Linked DNA regions of Homo sapiens: region 2 is linked to region 1. The links come from fine-mapping of genetic effects on gene expression. Tissue or cell type: whole blood. Region 1 holds a variant in brackets; the other region holds the start of a gene. All regions are shown on one strand. Distances are between the middles of the regions.

Evidence for each region. PIP is the estimated chance that this variant, and not a neighbour inherited with it, causes the effect.
Region 2: NEDD9 starts here. The variant in region 1 is fine-mapped to the expression of NEDD9 in whole blood (TOPMed, PIP above 0.99).

What each region holds. Positions count from the first base shown.
Region 1 is chr6:11,192,653-11,203,137 of GRCh38, forward strand. NEDD9 (neural precursor cell expressed, developmentally down-regulated 9) reads right to left here. Exons shown (of 7, transcript NM_006403.4): 3 at 939-1,040. Among named protein-coding and RNA genes, the nearest start is that of NEDD9, 35 kb to the right of the region's middle. RefSeq lists enhancers at 2,506-3,372, 3,373-4,238, 6,578-6,627. The variant C/T (reference allele first, on the strand shown) is at 5,613.
Region 2 is chr6:11,230,714-11,235,713 of GRCh38, forward strand. It overlaps NEDD9 (neural precursor cell expressed, developmentally down-regulated 9), which reads right to left and starts at 1,955. Exons shown (of 7, transcript NM_006403.4): 1 at 1,791-1,955. The coding sequence starts at 1,802. RefSeq lists silencers at 1,463-1,512, 1,993-2,042.

The DNA.
Region 1 (10,485 bases):
GGCCAGGCACGGTGGCTCACGCCTGTAATCCCAGCACTTTGGGAGGCTGAGGTGGGCAGATCACAAGGTCAAGAAATCGAGACCATCCTGGCCAACATGGTAAAACCCCATCTCTACTAAAAATACAAAAATTAGCTGGGTGTGGTGGTGCACACCTGTAGTCCCAGCTACTTGGGAGGCTGAGACAGGAGAATCGCCTGAACCCGGGAGGCAGAGGTTGCAGTGAGCTGAGATCGTGCCACTGCACTCCCAGCCTGGTGACAGAACAAGACTCTGTCTCAAAAAAAAAAAAAAAAAAAAAAAAAAAGATCTTATGTGAAATATCTACGCTGTCTGTACTTTAAAGTGTAGTTTAAATTTTCTACTTTCCAGCTGGGGGCCGTGGCTCACACCTGTAATCCCAGCACTTTGGAAGGCCGAGGTGGGCAGACCACTTGCAGTTAGGAGTTCAAAACCAGCCTGGCCACCATGGCAAAAGCCTGTCCCTACAAAATACAAAAATTAGTCAGGTATGGTGGTGTGTGTGCCTGTAGTCCCAGCTACTTGGGAAGCTGAGGCAGGGGCAGGAGAGTTGCTTGAGCCTGGGAGGTGGAGGTTGCAGTGAGCTGAGATAGAGCCACTGCACTCCAGCCTGGGCAACAAAGTGAGATTCTGTCTTAAAAAAAAAAAAAAGAAAAAAGAAAAATCTACTTTCTGAAGCAAAATTGTAGAAGAACATAAGCTCTCTTGGGTGAAATACTAGGATTTCCTGATAAAGCAAATCCAGAAAACATAATTTAAATAGCATTGGCTAAAGTGGCTACTGGGTAGACAACCTAAACAAAGCTTCATATGACATATATTAATGCATAATTTGTGAACTCCCTTTTCTCTACAGCCCTGAAGGAATGCTACCCTTAGAAGCGCTTCTCCTCTTGTGACCATGTTCTGGTACGCACCCCTTGAGTGGTATGAGAAGGAGGGATATCATAGACGTCCTTTTGGTATCTGGATGGGTACTCGTATACGTAGCCATGGCCTGTCCTCACGGGGGTTATCACCTGTGGGAGAGAAGGCACAGAGGTGTAAATTTCCAAGCCTGAGTCCTTGAATCTCCTTGCCTCCTAACTAAGCACTCATCCCTCAACTCTCCCTCATAAAAAGATAGAAAGAAACCAAAGAAAGAAGACATAACAGGAAGGAGACAAGTAGACACCACGTTAGTAAACTTTTTTTTTTTTTTTTGAAATGGAGTTTTGCTCTTGCTCCCCAGGCTGGAGTACAGTGGCACAATCTCAGCTTACAGCAACCTCTGCCTCCCGGGTTCAAGTGATTTTCCTGCCTCAGCCTCCTGAGTAGTTGAGATTACAGGTGCACGCCACCATGCCCAGCTAATTTTTTGTATTTTTAGTAGAGACAGGGTTTCATCATGTTGGCTGGTCTCAAACTCCTGACCTCAGGTGATCCACCCACCTCAGCCCCCAAAAGTGCAGGGATTACAGGTGTGAGCCACTGCATCTGGCCCAGGTTAGTAAACTTTTAAATCCCTCTTGAATCCCAATGAGAAAAAAAATCCCTAAAATATCTCTATCACCCTTAATTGTGATCATCTCAAAGTTCATCAGATAGAGTTGATGCACTGCAAGCATATTTCTGAAATATACTTTAAGGGATACTTGTGTGTAACTTATGAAAGTCCTAGAGGAGCATTTTGCATCTAAAGTACCGCATACTGAAATTTGCTTTAAGGCTCTGAAACAATTTGTAAAATGAATAATGCAAATAGAGTTTAGCCACTTAAAATTCCTCTCATGCCTTCCTCAGTATGCCTCTTCATTGGACATTATTATGATGATTATAACTGTAATTCCACAGGTCACCAGAGTACTTTTACAAAGCCAATGCTCAAACTGTGCTGTCCTTAGAAACCTCTGGGAGCTTTCATTCTAACGTATCAAACAAACAAAATACTGAGTCAGGGAGGCACCAGGAACAGAATTCAGGTCTCCTGACCTCTGGTCTCTAATCATTTTCCCATTTCCACCAGGAAAGAAAACATCCCCAACAGTACCTACGTCAAGGGATATCAGAAGTCAAATAGCGTTCATCACGATGCTGGCATCTGGAACCAGTGCCAATAAAATGAATCTTACCTAGCAGCCTCCTGTTTTCATATCTACATACTTCATTGGTGTGCTAAGCACCAGCAAAAAATTATTTGAACTTAACTCATTTTGAAATATATGTAATCGTCCAAGGGCTTCTAAATGCCCAGGGTCTTGTTTCTGCCTAACCCCCACCCTTTGAGTCATTGAGTGCCCATCTCAAGCGTTGCCCACGACATCTTTGAGGAGAACAGACATTGCAAATGAGGAAGAGTTGGTTGTTCCCTAAGAAACCGTCAACTTTTATCCTTTCTCTGAAGTGAAAACTCTGGCGTCAGGCTGCCTACAGAACTATGTGAAAAATGCTCCACGTCCATCTTATGCTGAAATGGGTGGAACTCAGCCAAATGCACCAATGCCTTCTCCCCAGGCGCTCTCAAAATGCCTGAGTTCAATTTGGCTTTTAATCCCTAGTGCTTACAACTGATTGTTTCTTGCAACGAAGTAAAAGAGATTAGTATGCACTCAAAATTTCCATCAAGTCTCTCCACTGTCTTGGGTTTAAAAAAGGAACCTATTGCTTTGAGGTCTGTTGGCATGGAGCATACGGAACCACTTTATAGAATGGCCACTGTATTGTGCATAGCAAACCTTCCTTTTCAAAGCAGGATGCCCTTTGCTAAAGAAAAACACAATGTGTTCCTAATGCCCTTATATGATTGTTTTTTTTTTTTTACTCGCTATTGTCCAGGAGAGAAATGAAGATCTCCCCTTAGTCTATTTCATCAGCCCCTCTACTTAGAGCGCTGTCTTGGCTTTATCATAGCACCTGCTCATAGTGCAGCTTTTGTTCAGCTTAAAAGTTTCCAAGAGTGGATTTTATCCAAGGTTGCCAACTTAGCAATAATGCTAATGGAAAACCAAGGCTAAGTCCAGCTTAACTGTTCATCTTTCGTTTAAAAAACAGAAGCGGGCATGTCGGGCGCAGTGGCTCATGCCTGTAATCCCAGCACTTTGGGAGGCCAAGGCGGGAGAATCACCTAAGGTCAGGAGTTGGAGACCAGCCTGGCCAACATGGTGAAACTCCGTCTTTACTAAAAATATAAAATTAGCCGGGTGTGGTGACATGTGCCTGTAATCCCAGCTACTCGGGAGGCTGAGGCAGGAGAATCACTTGAATTCGAGAGGCGGAGGTTGCAGTGGGCTGAGATCTTGCCACTGCACTCCAGCCTAGGCAAAAAGAGTGAAACTCCGTCTCAAAAAACAAACAAACAATCAAACAAACAGGCTGGGCGTGGTGGCTCACGCTTGTAATCCCAGCGCTTTGGGAGGGCAAGGATCGCGGATCACGAGGTCAGGAGATCGAGACCATCCTGGCTAACACAGTGAAACCCCATCTCTACTAAAAATACACAAAATTAGCCAGGTGTGGTGGTGGGCGCCTGTAGTCCCAGCTACTTGGGAGGCTGAGGCAGGAGAATGGCGTGAACCTGGGAGGAGGAGCTTGCAGTGAGCCAAGATCGTTCCACTGCACTCCAGCCTGGGTGACAGAGAGAGACTCTGTCTCAAAACAAAACAAAACAAACAAACAAACAAAAAACCCAGAAGGGGATTGGGAGCTAGAGTGGGTGGCGTTGGTGTCTGAAAATAGCACTAGGTGACATATAAACACATAGCACGACCTCAGAAAAGGAAGGCAGGTTCACCGCTAAAGTGTTTCCTTGCCTTTGTGGATCTTCCCTGGCAGAAAGCGCTAATGCTTCCCGGTATTTAACATTTCACTTCCTGACAAATGTCACAGAACCCCAACTTGCTCTCTCTTTCTCATTTAGAGGATGCCTGTGGTCTTCTGGTTTTTTAAAACTCTGCATTCCAAACCAGTCATTTTCCTTGTTTATGCATTCAAAGAAACAGATGGTGAAAACCACAGGGGGGAAACGCCAACCGAATACAGCACCCCCCGCCCGCCACCACCGATTCCAGCCTTCCTGACATTACCATCTAATTCACGTTGGTCCACAAATGGCATTTAAATGGGACCAGGATGCAAAATGCTGGTCCCATTTAAATGCCAAGTCCAGTGCAGCAATCCGCATTGTGACGTGTGGAAGATCAGGGAGCTCGAAGTCTTCTACTTTTGGACATTCTCTGCCTCGACCTGTTGCTTGGGTCACTTTCATGCCAATTGTGTGTCCTCTCCTCGGAGGAAAAGTGCTGACTGAGCTGTACCTTACAAAGTCTCCAGTTTTGTGGTTCATTAAGGCTTTTTCTTGCTGCGTGACATAAGTACACAAAAACCTTCCAACGATCTCTCCTCATTCCACCTCCCAGAACTGCTGAATTTCAGCTGAAGACGCACACCAAGGTCTGGTTAAGGGGACCTCAAGTTTGGAAGAATTCTCCTAGGCATTTGTTCGGTGAGGCATTAAAGGAATTGCTACACAAAGGACATTTTTAAACTAATTTTCTCAATGAAATCAAGTCAGGTTTTTCATTTCCTTTCCCCCTCTGTTTGCTTTTTTTTTTTTCTACATTCCTTTCATTCTGTGCATTTATTTATAGTTACAAAGGCTTAGCCTTTGGAATTACCAAACTGACCTCTTAATTCATTAGTGTTGCCAGGAAGGGGGCTGAATTGTGAGGTCTCCTGGGGCTCTATGATCCAATGCTACTGCAACTGCTTTCGTGATTACCCGGCACAGGATTTGCACTTTCCATATGTGGATTTTCTGTCCCTAGGAGGAATCCAACCTTTCTCAGATGTTAGTATACCATTCTCAGTAACTAACGGGAGGGTCCAAGACAGAGACTTTGAGAAGAGCTATGAAGCCGAGAAGGGCAGATTCTTCCATTTAGAAAAGGAAGAATCCATTTAATACATCTCCAAGTCTGGGTCCTGGCAGGATAGGATCAAAAGCCCAAAGACTGGCGTTATGTTAGTTCTCTAATTAATCTGCTTACATAAAAACAAGGAAACAAACTCGAATTGCCCCACCCCACACTTTGATGGTGTTTGATCCACACTGTTTTGAGTCTCAGATCCTGGCGGCATGAGTTTCTGGAGATGCTTTTGACACTTTCATGCCTCATAATTTTGAAAGCCATGTATGCTGAAATTTTAAAGAGGAGGGTCTGTGTTTGGATAGCAGAGAGAGATAGGGAGGTCTGAGAACCAGCATGATGACAGTCAGCAAGTTGGATGAGAGGCCCTTGGGACTCTTTCTGATGTTTCTGCATCTGTGTTCCCTGAGCTGGTACCCATAGCAGAGCAAGGGTCCTATACTCAGATGCTCACGGACCGAGCAAGCAGGGTGTAGGGAAGAAACAAGCCAGGCTTTGGTGCCGGGGAGACAGAACTCCTTCTACCGAAAGAGGGAAGACATTGCGCCCTGTGTTGCCAGATCTTTCACGTTTTCAGAAGCCAGAAATTTGGAATTTTATGTGAAACCTGGTTTTCAAAATTGACTTAAATTTTAAAAACAGTGTCTTGGCCAAACTAAACGCGTCTTTGGCCTCCGGGCTGCCAGT[C/T]TTTGCCTTCATCTGTGTATTTTTGCCCTCCTTCCTCTTGGAAATCTTCTGAAGGCAGGGCCCCCAGGCTCTGCACCAACTCCCTCCCTCGGCGAGAACTGAGCTGTCCATTTCCACAGATGCCCTGCACGCCCATACCTCTGTGCCTTCATCCATGCCATGTCCTTGTCTGAGATGCTCTTCTTTCTTTCCTCATATTCAAACTTTAATTGATTTTCAAGGCCCGGCTGAATGCCTTTCCCCCACCAAGCCCTTCCCAAACAGATAATATGTCTCTATCCTTGGAACTCCCTGAGCCAGTGATCCACACATCTCTGACAGCACTTATCACTTGTGGTTTGACGGTCTTGATGCATCTCATCTCTTCTTCCAGCATTTTAAAGTCAGAGATCATTCCCTCTTCATTTAAATATAAACCACAGGGCCTAGTACAGTGCCTAGCAGAGTAGGTCTTGCATAATCTATTGAGTGATACATTAATCAACTAAAGGAAAACTGAAGGCTATTAAGCAAGATGGCGTGAGGTCTGCCACTACAGAATAAGCTTGGTTTCCAGGTAAGCCAGCTCTGGGTTAAGTAGAACCCATGGGATATGGGGCAGAACAGTGCCCTATCAGCCATGCATGGTAGTGTTGGGCAAGAGAGGGATCCAAGAAGGCAAGGGAATGTTAGGTGAAGTTGAGAAATCAGAAACTGTAGAAGAATGCACCCCAAGTTGGGTGAAGCCACTATTGGCAGGCAAGGAGGGCTGCTGGATGGTTTCCTTTTCCCCAGTTGAGCTCGTATGTGACATGAACACCTGGGTTCTTCTTAACCACAAGCCAGAAACATGTGGGGGAGTGTTTTGGAAAAGGGAAACCAAAACAAACCCTGCTTTTTACCTCAACATCAGAAGGAACATACGATTGCTTTAGTTCTGGGGATGTGTGATAGGCTCGTTTATGAGAAGCTGTGTGCCAGAGGCCATGGCCCCACTGGGTCTTTTTCTGTTGCTTATTGGAAGAATTAGGTCTGAAGAGGGAAGTAATTGACAAACAGAAGCTGGACTCAGGCAGAGCTGGATCTAAATCCCGGTTCTACCACTCACAAGCTATGAGAACAAAGGTTCCATTCTAAGCCTGTTTTCTCATAGGTAAAATGGAAATTATACTTCCCTCATAGGCTATATGAGTATTAAATGAGATCAAGTGCATAAAGTACCTGGCATAAAGCCATAATAAGCCTTAGCTATTGTTATTGTTATTGTAATTGTCACCTAGGCTATATAGATTTTACCTTTTGACTTTGACTTCCAGAAATCATGGACTAGGTAATTGAGATTAACCATCTTGCTGAAGACAACTTAAAAAAATGAAGAAAAGCTAGGAAAGATCTTTTTTTTTTTTTTTTTTTTTTTTTTTTTTTTTTTTTTTTTGAGACAGAGTCTTACTCTGTCGCCCAGGCTGGAGTGCAGTGGTGAGATCTCGGCTCACCGCAAGCTCCGCCTCCTGAGTTCACGCCATTCTCCTGCCTCAGCCTTCCGAGTAGCTGGGACTACAGGCACCCGCCCACTGCGCCCGCCACCGTGCCCAGCTAATTTTTTGTATTTTTAGTAGAGACGGGGTTTTACCGTGTTAGCCAGGACGATCTCGATCTCCTGACCTCGTGATCCGCCCGCCTCGGCCTCCGAAAGTGCTGGGATTACAGGCGTGAGCCACTGCGCCCAGCCGAAAAGATCTTCTTAATAGTGTCAAGAGTTCAAGGATAATAAAGAATTACTAGGTCAAACTTTGGGAGAAGAGTTAATAGAGGTGAGATTGCTTTTCAAGCCTGGGGGCATTTGCTATTTTTTGCTGATCTGAAACTGGTGCCTGGGAGGCTGTGCTGGGTTTTCTACAGCTTCTTTGGGTAAGGGGGAACATTGGACTATAGGGCTCACCAAGGCAGGGACCCCAAACCACCCCCGACTTTGGGTTGGAACCCTAAGGACTGTATCCAAAATAAGGATTAACTGGAAGTAAACCCACCCTTGCACAGGCTGAAGACATCAGGGTTGCCAGAACAGCTCAAAGCATGGAATCAGATGTATGCTTGCCTATGAGGCTGGCAGAAGGAAACAAAATTCTCTCTGGAGGCAGAGAACATCTTTATAGGCTTCACATTATTTCTACAAATGTACTGAAAATACAATGTCCCACATACAATCAAAGATAAACAGGAATTCAGGGGACAAGACAACAGGAACAAGACAAGCAACAGTCAATTCTTGCTTTCTAATGTGATAAGAATGTTATGTATGTCTTAGTAATCACAGATCTCAAGGCTGTTTCCTTTCAAAATGTTTTAGGATCAAATCATGGGAGAAATGAAGATTTAATCATTCCTAAATTTAAGTCAGATAGAAAGAAATCAATCTTTAGGAATGTATAGTGCTCAAAATGAGATCTACGAGGCAGTGAGAATTTCAAACCAAAGCAGCAAATGGTAAGAGACAGTGGTCCTTGATGATCATCTGTAGAGTTCTTGGGGTTACTGTTTTCTGCTGTTCGTATCAGTATTGGCATTATTACGGTTATCACCAGAGCAGCTCAAGACACGCCAATGGGAAACCCCAGGAGAAAATGTGTTTTTCCAAGTCTAGGAGATGAAGATATTTATCCAAGAGAAAGACGGCAAGCCTCCAAACTCAGGACACTTTATTAAAATGCTCATCAGATGAGATCTTTTCAGTGGAGGTTCACAAGCTGGTTTGTTTAGAGGCTCTCACTAAGAAATAGGACACTTGCCCATCTCTCTGGAACACCTAGAGACAAAGCATTTTCTGTCAAGACAAGTTCTGCTCACATTGTGTCACTTGTTCAAGGTCTCAGCAAGTCTCCTTGGGGGCACTTCTTTCCTTGGGCATCCACTTCACCTCCTTAATGCAGAGCTGGCTAGGTGCCTGGGATGGGGCAGAGCAGCGGCAGCAGAGGCCATGTGGTCAGAACTTCAACTTCTCAGCTGCATGCTGCTAGCTCAATGGAGCACTAAGGGAAGCGGGAAGGGAGCAGACGGCTGCCACTCACAAAGGCCAATCCCCCTCCCCACAGCAAGCCTCATATCCATCATGTTTTGCTATGTTTCCTTCTGATGCCAGCCCTGTGGGTCACCCACCCACCTACTTATCATGACTTCTCATCTCTCCCCTCACAACACTGTCTTGTTTTGACTACTTCCCTCCTTCCATGTGCTTCCAGCAACCCTAAGTAAGAACAAAGCAGTAAAAAAACGAAGCAGAAAAATCCTACTCTTTGAAAGGAAGAGTTGGGTAGAGTGGATGGGAGACAGAGAGATGGGATGGAGAGGAGACTGGGTAACTTCACTAGTTAGTCATGCTCTAGTGACTTATTATTATTTATACTTCTACATTATCTATCTATCTATGTCTATCTTTGTATGCATCAAAATTTTAAAAATTACAAATATATATATATTTTGTCATTTTAACAAGATTTTAAAAGATAATAAGAAATATTACTTGAAAGGTTTTCTTTTAAGAGAATGATGGGACACAGACCTGTTCTAGATTCTATGTCCCGTGATTCCTCTGAGTCTAAGTCTCTACAATCCAAAGCAACATTACAAATAGCCTGAATTGTGCAATCCTTTGCCTCCAATATAGAGATAGTGACTTGATTATTGACCAGTGGAGTTTACCCATGAATTTAGTAGAGTACTAATGTGTGGAGTCAGCTTCTTGTGTCCTTCCCTAATGCCTAGTCAGGAGCTAGGTAACCCAGGATGTGCTCAGGAAATAACAATGGGTAATTGATGAGAAGTTAAAAAGTGTCCCCGTGCTGTAATGATTACAGATTTATAACCTCACCATTCATAGTACCTACGATTCTCTGAATTTAAAAGTAGGTTTTACTAAGTAACAGCCATGTATTTGCACTTTTCTTGGCATATGTGGGAAGTAAAATTTGACTGCTTCCTGTCTATCTCTAATTCCTCCCCAGCCCCTGATTTATTTATATTATCTCTCTTTGCGTTTCATGAATTAACAAGAGTGTTTAGCTTTCCAAAACTGCCTGTTGGAAAGGGCTTCTTTCACTTAAATGCCCTTGAAAAGCATTAACAGAGCTACCACAGTATTTATTAGACTTTATAATAACCTCTTTGTCTTAAATGAACTATTTGATCCCTTCCCTTTAAAGAAAACCTTAGGAAAAGAAACATTACCATTATCACTGCCTGCCCATTAGAACTGGGATCCAATTTTCAGAAACTGTAAAGCTACAGAGGTTTGCCTGCTTAAAATCCAAGAGTACTAGTTGCTTCTCTATGACCAGAAGAAAAGCCACATGTTGCCTACCCTGGATTTATTAATTCTCTGTAAATTCATTCTGCCCAGCTTGGGTGTAGCAGTGAGCTCATTTATTTACTTGCATAGCAACAATATAATGAAAACTGAGTCTGGCCTTAAAAATACACCCTCGTAAGCCATGTCCAAGGTTAACTCTTCCAAATGCTTCTCTGGTGCTCATGAAGTTTTTTCCCCATGTATTTTTGAAGGTGAATTACTTTCTTTCAAAGTCGTTCTGATGCCTGATTTTATGCCAGAACTAAACCTTTTGCTAGCCACATCTAAATCACAGCCAGCTTCTTTCCCCAGTGAGGAAAAAGTCACAAGTGGAAGCTCAGAAGTGGAGCAGTGGTGCTCCTGGGTCACTTTCATTTGACACAGCGTTGGGCAGCAAACCCGCTCAATGGAAACAGTGCCCCTATTGTTAAGCCCCTAGCATGTCCCCCCTGCTGCTTTCAGGAAGCTCTTTGTGTAGCCAGTGCTAAAGCAATATTTAGTTATAGAGTGACCAAGCACCAGCGAGCAGCTAGAAGCATTTAACATGAAAGA
Region 2 (5,000 bases), 35 kb after region 1:
CAAGGTAATAAAAATCATGTATTTACATCATTTGGCAAGGTGTTCAACACCAGTAAGGCCCAGTGGAGAAGCAGGTTTCTCCATGAATGCCAATCGCAGTTTACGCTGTCAGTCACTTTATCAGTTGCCTTTAGATTTTCTTTCCATAAAGAGTAAAGCTAACCACGATGAGATCATTGAATAAAAGTGACTTGAGACTTTGTCGCTTTCGTCACTTTCTAGATTATAGCACTCAATGTTAATTTCAGCCATTTATACTTTCCAATAATAGACATATGAACATACTTTCTCTTTTTTCTGCAAGCCAGTTCTTATTCAACAACAGGGAAAGGAGGAGCAAAAAAGTCACTCCAGGCTGAGTAATATCTGGTCCTATCATTGTTCTAAATAAGGAAATATGGGGTGAGCCACTTTAAGGAAGATAACTTTCCTGCCAAGTAGAGGGATTTGTTTCTGGTTGCATCCTAAAGTCAAATATTAATAGTCTTCAGGATGACCCTTTCCTCTGATCTTCCCTACTGATGAAGATAATAGAAAGCTGATGAAACAGAAATAGCTGATACCTGTGTCTTCAGACAGTGGTAACGTAGGCATTACTATAAAGACTTTTGACATTTAGACTTAAAGCTTTTGAATAAGATTCATAGTTTTTGAACAAAAGCTTTATTACTGAGGCTAGTCAGTGGCTATCAGTTAGACCAAGTATTTACAACCTTACATCAAAAAAGGATGGACCAGAAAAATTTAGAAAAAAAGCGAAGTAGCTTCCAGCTAGTGTACAGTTAATATAAATTGTCAATCCACAAGCCTAGCACCCTTGCCCAAATCCATCTTAATAATAACACTTTTGTTTAAAATAGCATAAAATAAAATAGTAGCACTAGCACTCATGTCTATTCATCATTCAAGAAAAATTCATGTCCAATTCATTGCAGTCTGCTTTCTTTGTGTCCCCTGGAAGCTGCTTGCCTCCTTAGATGGGAGTGACTTAAAAGAAAAAGGGGAGGGGGGAATATACGGAGCAAGTCAAAAATCCTTTTGGCAAGAAAAATCCACAAACAATGGTGTAAAATGCATTGGAAAATAATGCTGCTGAAGTACTATGACTATGACACTCTGTAAGCTTTCAGGCACAATGAGCCAGCCTGAGCCTTCGCACTCTCACCCCATTCAAACTCCAATAAAAATGTTTTCAAGAAATGGCTCATACTTATTTATTCCTACATCCAATATAACATAAGGATGTCAAAATTTTCCATCCTCAGCTGTGTAATCTGGGCTTTTAATTTCTCCCACCAAAAGTGCATATGGCATACTCCTTCCGAGACCAAACGATTAAAGCAAAGTCTGGAAAACTTTGCACTAAGAGCCAGTCTGAGACAGACTATGCAGTCCTCATTCCTCTCATTACAGTTCCCCAGGGCAGTGGAAGCCAGGCCTGGGGAAGCCAAGGAGACTTGAGCCAATGCCTGCCGCGATTCAAGTCAGACACCCTCTGATCTCCAGTGGCTGCTGTGAAGCGGCTCCAAGTCTTAACTTCTCACCGAGGTATTTCCCCGGCAACTTTCAGAGCAGATGGACTCGGGTGTACTGTGAACCCCTGGAGTGGGTCTCAAAGACCGGGTCTCTGCTTGCTTGTCTGCTTGCATGTCAACCTCAGTGACCGAGACTCATCTTAGAACTCTCCGGGACACACAAGGGACTGACAGTAAGGAACACGCATACACAAGCACACACCCGCAGGCACAGCTTTCAGCTTGCAAGGTAACCTGTAAAAGGCACTCTCTTACCTTATACTTCATTTCGGCAGCGGTGGGTTGAGCCGTTTTCCTACACTAGTTAAGACAGCATTAAGCACTGCGGTGCCCGCCCCTCCATTGAGTGCAGCGCTAGATGAAAGCGAGAAGGTCCCGGGCAGAGCCGCTTGTCAGTCGCAGCGCCTCCCTCAAGTCTCTGAGCTCACTGTTGTGACTGAGGCAGGCTGATCGCGGACCTCATTTGCATGCCGCCCCGCCATTGGCTAGTGGGACAAGGTAATGCTCAGGCCCTGCCCACCCCTAATTCTGAAAAACTGACAAAGAACTTGTAATGTGATCGCTTCTTTTTGCTTTATCAGACGGTGGAAAATAAAACAGAAAGTGGGGAACCGTCCTGAACCTTACTCTGTCCTCCCGCCCCCGCCAAAAAAGAAGACAGAAAGAGAAAGAACAGGAAAAGGAGATACATTCTTTTTAAGATTAACCCAAATTTTAAAGAAACTGAATTCACAAAAGCAGTCTGACAGTCGCGCTTCCTGTGACCTAGCAACTCCTTCATAAACCCATTTCGTTTCAAAGCCATTCACCTCACAATCTCTACATGAAACGAACTCCGGGAACAAAAGGTTTTCTGTCTCCGGGCCCCTTTTTACTAACCACCCCTGCTGATACCTCTCTCTCTCTCTGTCCCTTTTTCTTTCCCCCTCCTCCCGCCTACTTTTTGTGTGTGTGTGACTGTTTGCTTTTTTTGTTCTTTTCAACGTTCAAAGTACTTTGCGATGTCAGTCTGCAAGGAGCTGGAAGACAATTCTCCCTTAGTGAAAAGGAACCCTCTAGCACACGCACCAGCGTTTTCCTGGACAGCTTCTCACCAGGGCCTCAGAGTTGCGGGTCACACATATTGAGCGACCTTCAGTGGCTTTGCTGAGGATAAAGGTTAGATGTGACCTCTCGGATGGGGTTGGCCAGTGCACGCCCTATACATCATCACCGTCCACTGAGTTCTGTGTTCTTTGACGGCTGGCATTTCTAGCTCCAGCTTTGAACACTGCAGTGTTTTTCCTTCTGACCTCTGTCCTGAGGATGACCCATTAACCCACCAACACTTATTATCCAGGAGAACGAAAATGCCCACTGTTTGATGAGCCTGGTTAAAAAGACCAGTCTCTCTCCAGCGAAGCACAGAACATAATTTCTATAAAGGTTCCATTTTAGGATTTCTATAGAGAAAGAGAATCACCCAGAAAACAGAAATGGTCACCTTCTGCAACTCTTCTCACGGACAGAGCAGTGAGGCGAAAAATTCCTTTTTCCCGGGCAAGACTGAGACTCGGTGAATCCAGACAATAGCTGTCCCTGAGTGGGATGCACTCCAACCAGACTACATGACTTGGATGGAAAAATCAGCCCTTATTTTTTTTTTTCCTGACCAAGTTGGATCAGAATCTGATTCCCTTCGCGTCTAACACACAAATTCCCAATGGATGAAAACTCTACTTTTATGATCTAAGCAAAAGGAATGAGAGAACAGCTGTCCTACAAAAGTGGTTTCCAGATACAGGGTTGGCAGGTTAGTTTGCAGTTCAGTGTGGCACTGATTCCAGGGACATGACCCCCCAGGCCATCCTAATGAGGTTGACATACCTGTTCCAGCCTGTATTAGGCCTTGCTTCTCCTCATTTGTCCTTAGAGCAAAAATAAGCCTGAGTGATTGTGCAAGGCCTTTCTGAACACAAATTAAGCACGCAGCATATTGCATTGTAACGATCTCCTTAAGAATCCTGCAGACTGACCGGAGAGTCGTTAGTTTGCAGGAAATTGTTTTTGGTGTCTACCTGGATAAAGGAGGACAATGATTCAAAGCCCTTCCCATCTGTAAGATGAGTCTTGCGGCCTCCAAGAGATCTAGATAACATTCCTTTGGCTTCCTAAGTGGTCAAGCTGAATCCTTTTTCTGTTTTGTTTGATGAATATCATTGAGTAAGTGAGTGCTGTCCCATCCTATTTTAATGTTTTCAAACAGTTTCCTAAAGTTTGTGCTGGGGTTTTTTTGTAATTTCATTCTCTAGCTAGTGGCCCTCCTGCTTTCCTGTTTCTGTCCTGTAAGGTAAGTAAGACACATGTAATCTACCCGAAGTTCATTTCAAGAAGGCTTGGGTCAGTATATAGTTAGCTGCCTAAAGGAAAGCACAAGGGTGTTGGAATCAGGTAAACCTGTGCTGGAACCTCAAAACATTTTTAATTTTTTTTTTTTTTTTTTTTGAGACAAAGTTTCATTCTTGTTGCCCAGGCTGGAGTGCAGTGGTGCAATATCGGCTCACTGCAATCCCCGCATCTCTGGTTCAAGCAATTCCCTCAGCCTCCCGAGTAGCTGGGATTACATGTGTCTGCCACCATACCTGGCTAATTTTTTGTATTTTTAGTAGAGACGGGGTTTCACCAGATTGGCCAGGCTGGTCTCGAACTCCTGACCTCAGGTGATCTACCTGCTTCAGTCTCCCAAAGTGCTGGGATTACAGGCGTGGGCCACTGTGCCTGGCCAGTTGAACTTCTTAATTTTGATGTCCTTCAGTATGAAATAGAGAAAATAATAATACCTGCTAGCCTCATAATGAGGATTAAATAAGATAATGTGGATAGAATTTAATAGTACTTGTTACATTGTAAGACCTTAAATGGTTGCTTGTTCTTATTACTGTTGTTATTAGTTATTATTTTAATTAATATCAGATTTATGATATTTTGTTAATATTTTATGACATTATTGCTATATTCTATAGATTATTATTTAATTATTGTATTAATTATAACTAGTATTAATATTAGACTACTGTTGATAAGTGTGGTAGGCATTCAGAAGAAGTTGGAGGAACCCCTTCTCTGTGTGCCATTCTTTCATAAGGCAGCTTTCTCACTGAACTGTTATCACTAGAGCACCTAGCATGTGCCAGGTACCTTTCTAGGAGGGGAGGATACAGCAGTAGCCCAGACAAAGTTCCCATCTTCATGGAGCTTACAGTCTAGTGAGAGTTGAGGAAAATAATTAAATGAATGTATAATATGATTTGCAGTGATAAATGCTATGAAGAAAAATTAAGCAGGGAAAATTGCTGGAGGAAAACAGACCAGGGTGGGACAGGAGGTGTATTATTTTAGATAAAGTGGTCAGGGAAGCTCCTCTGAGGAGATGATATTTAAGCAGAAATCTGAATAGTTTCAGGGATCCAGCCACTCAGAGATCTA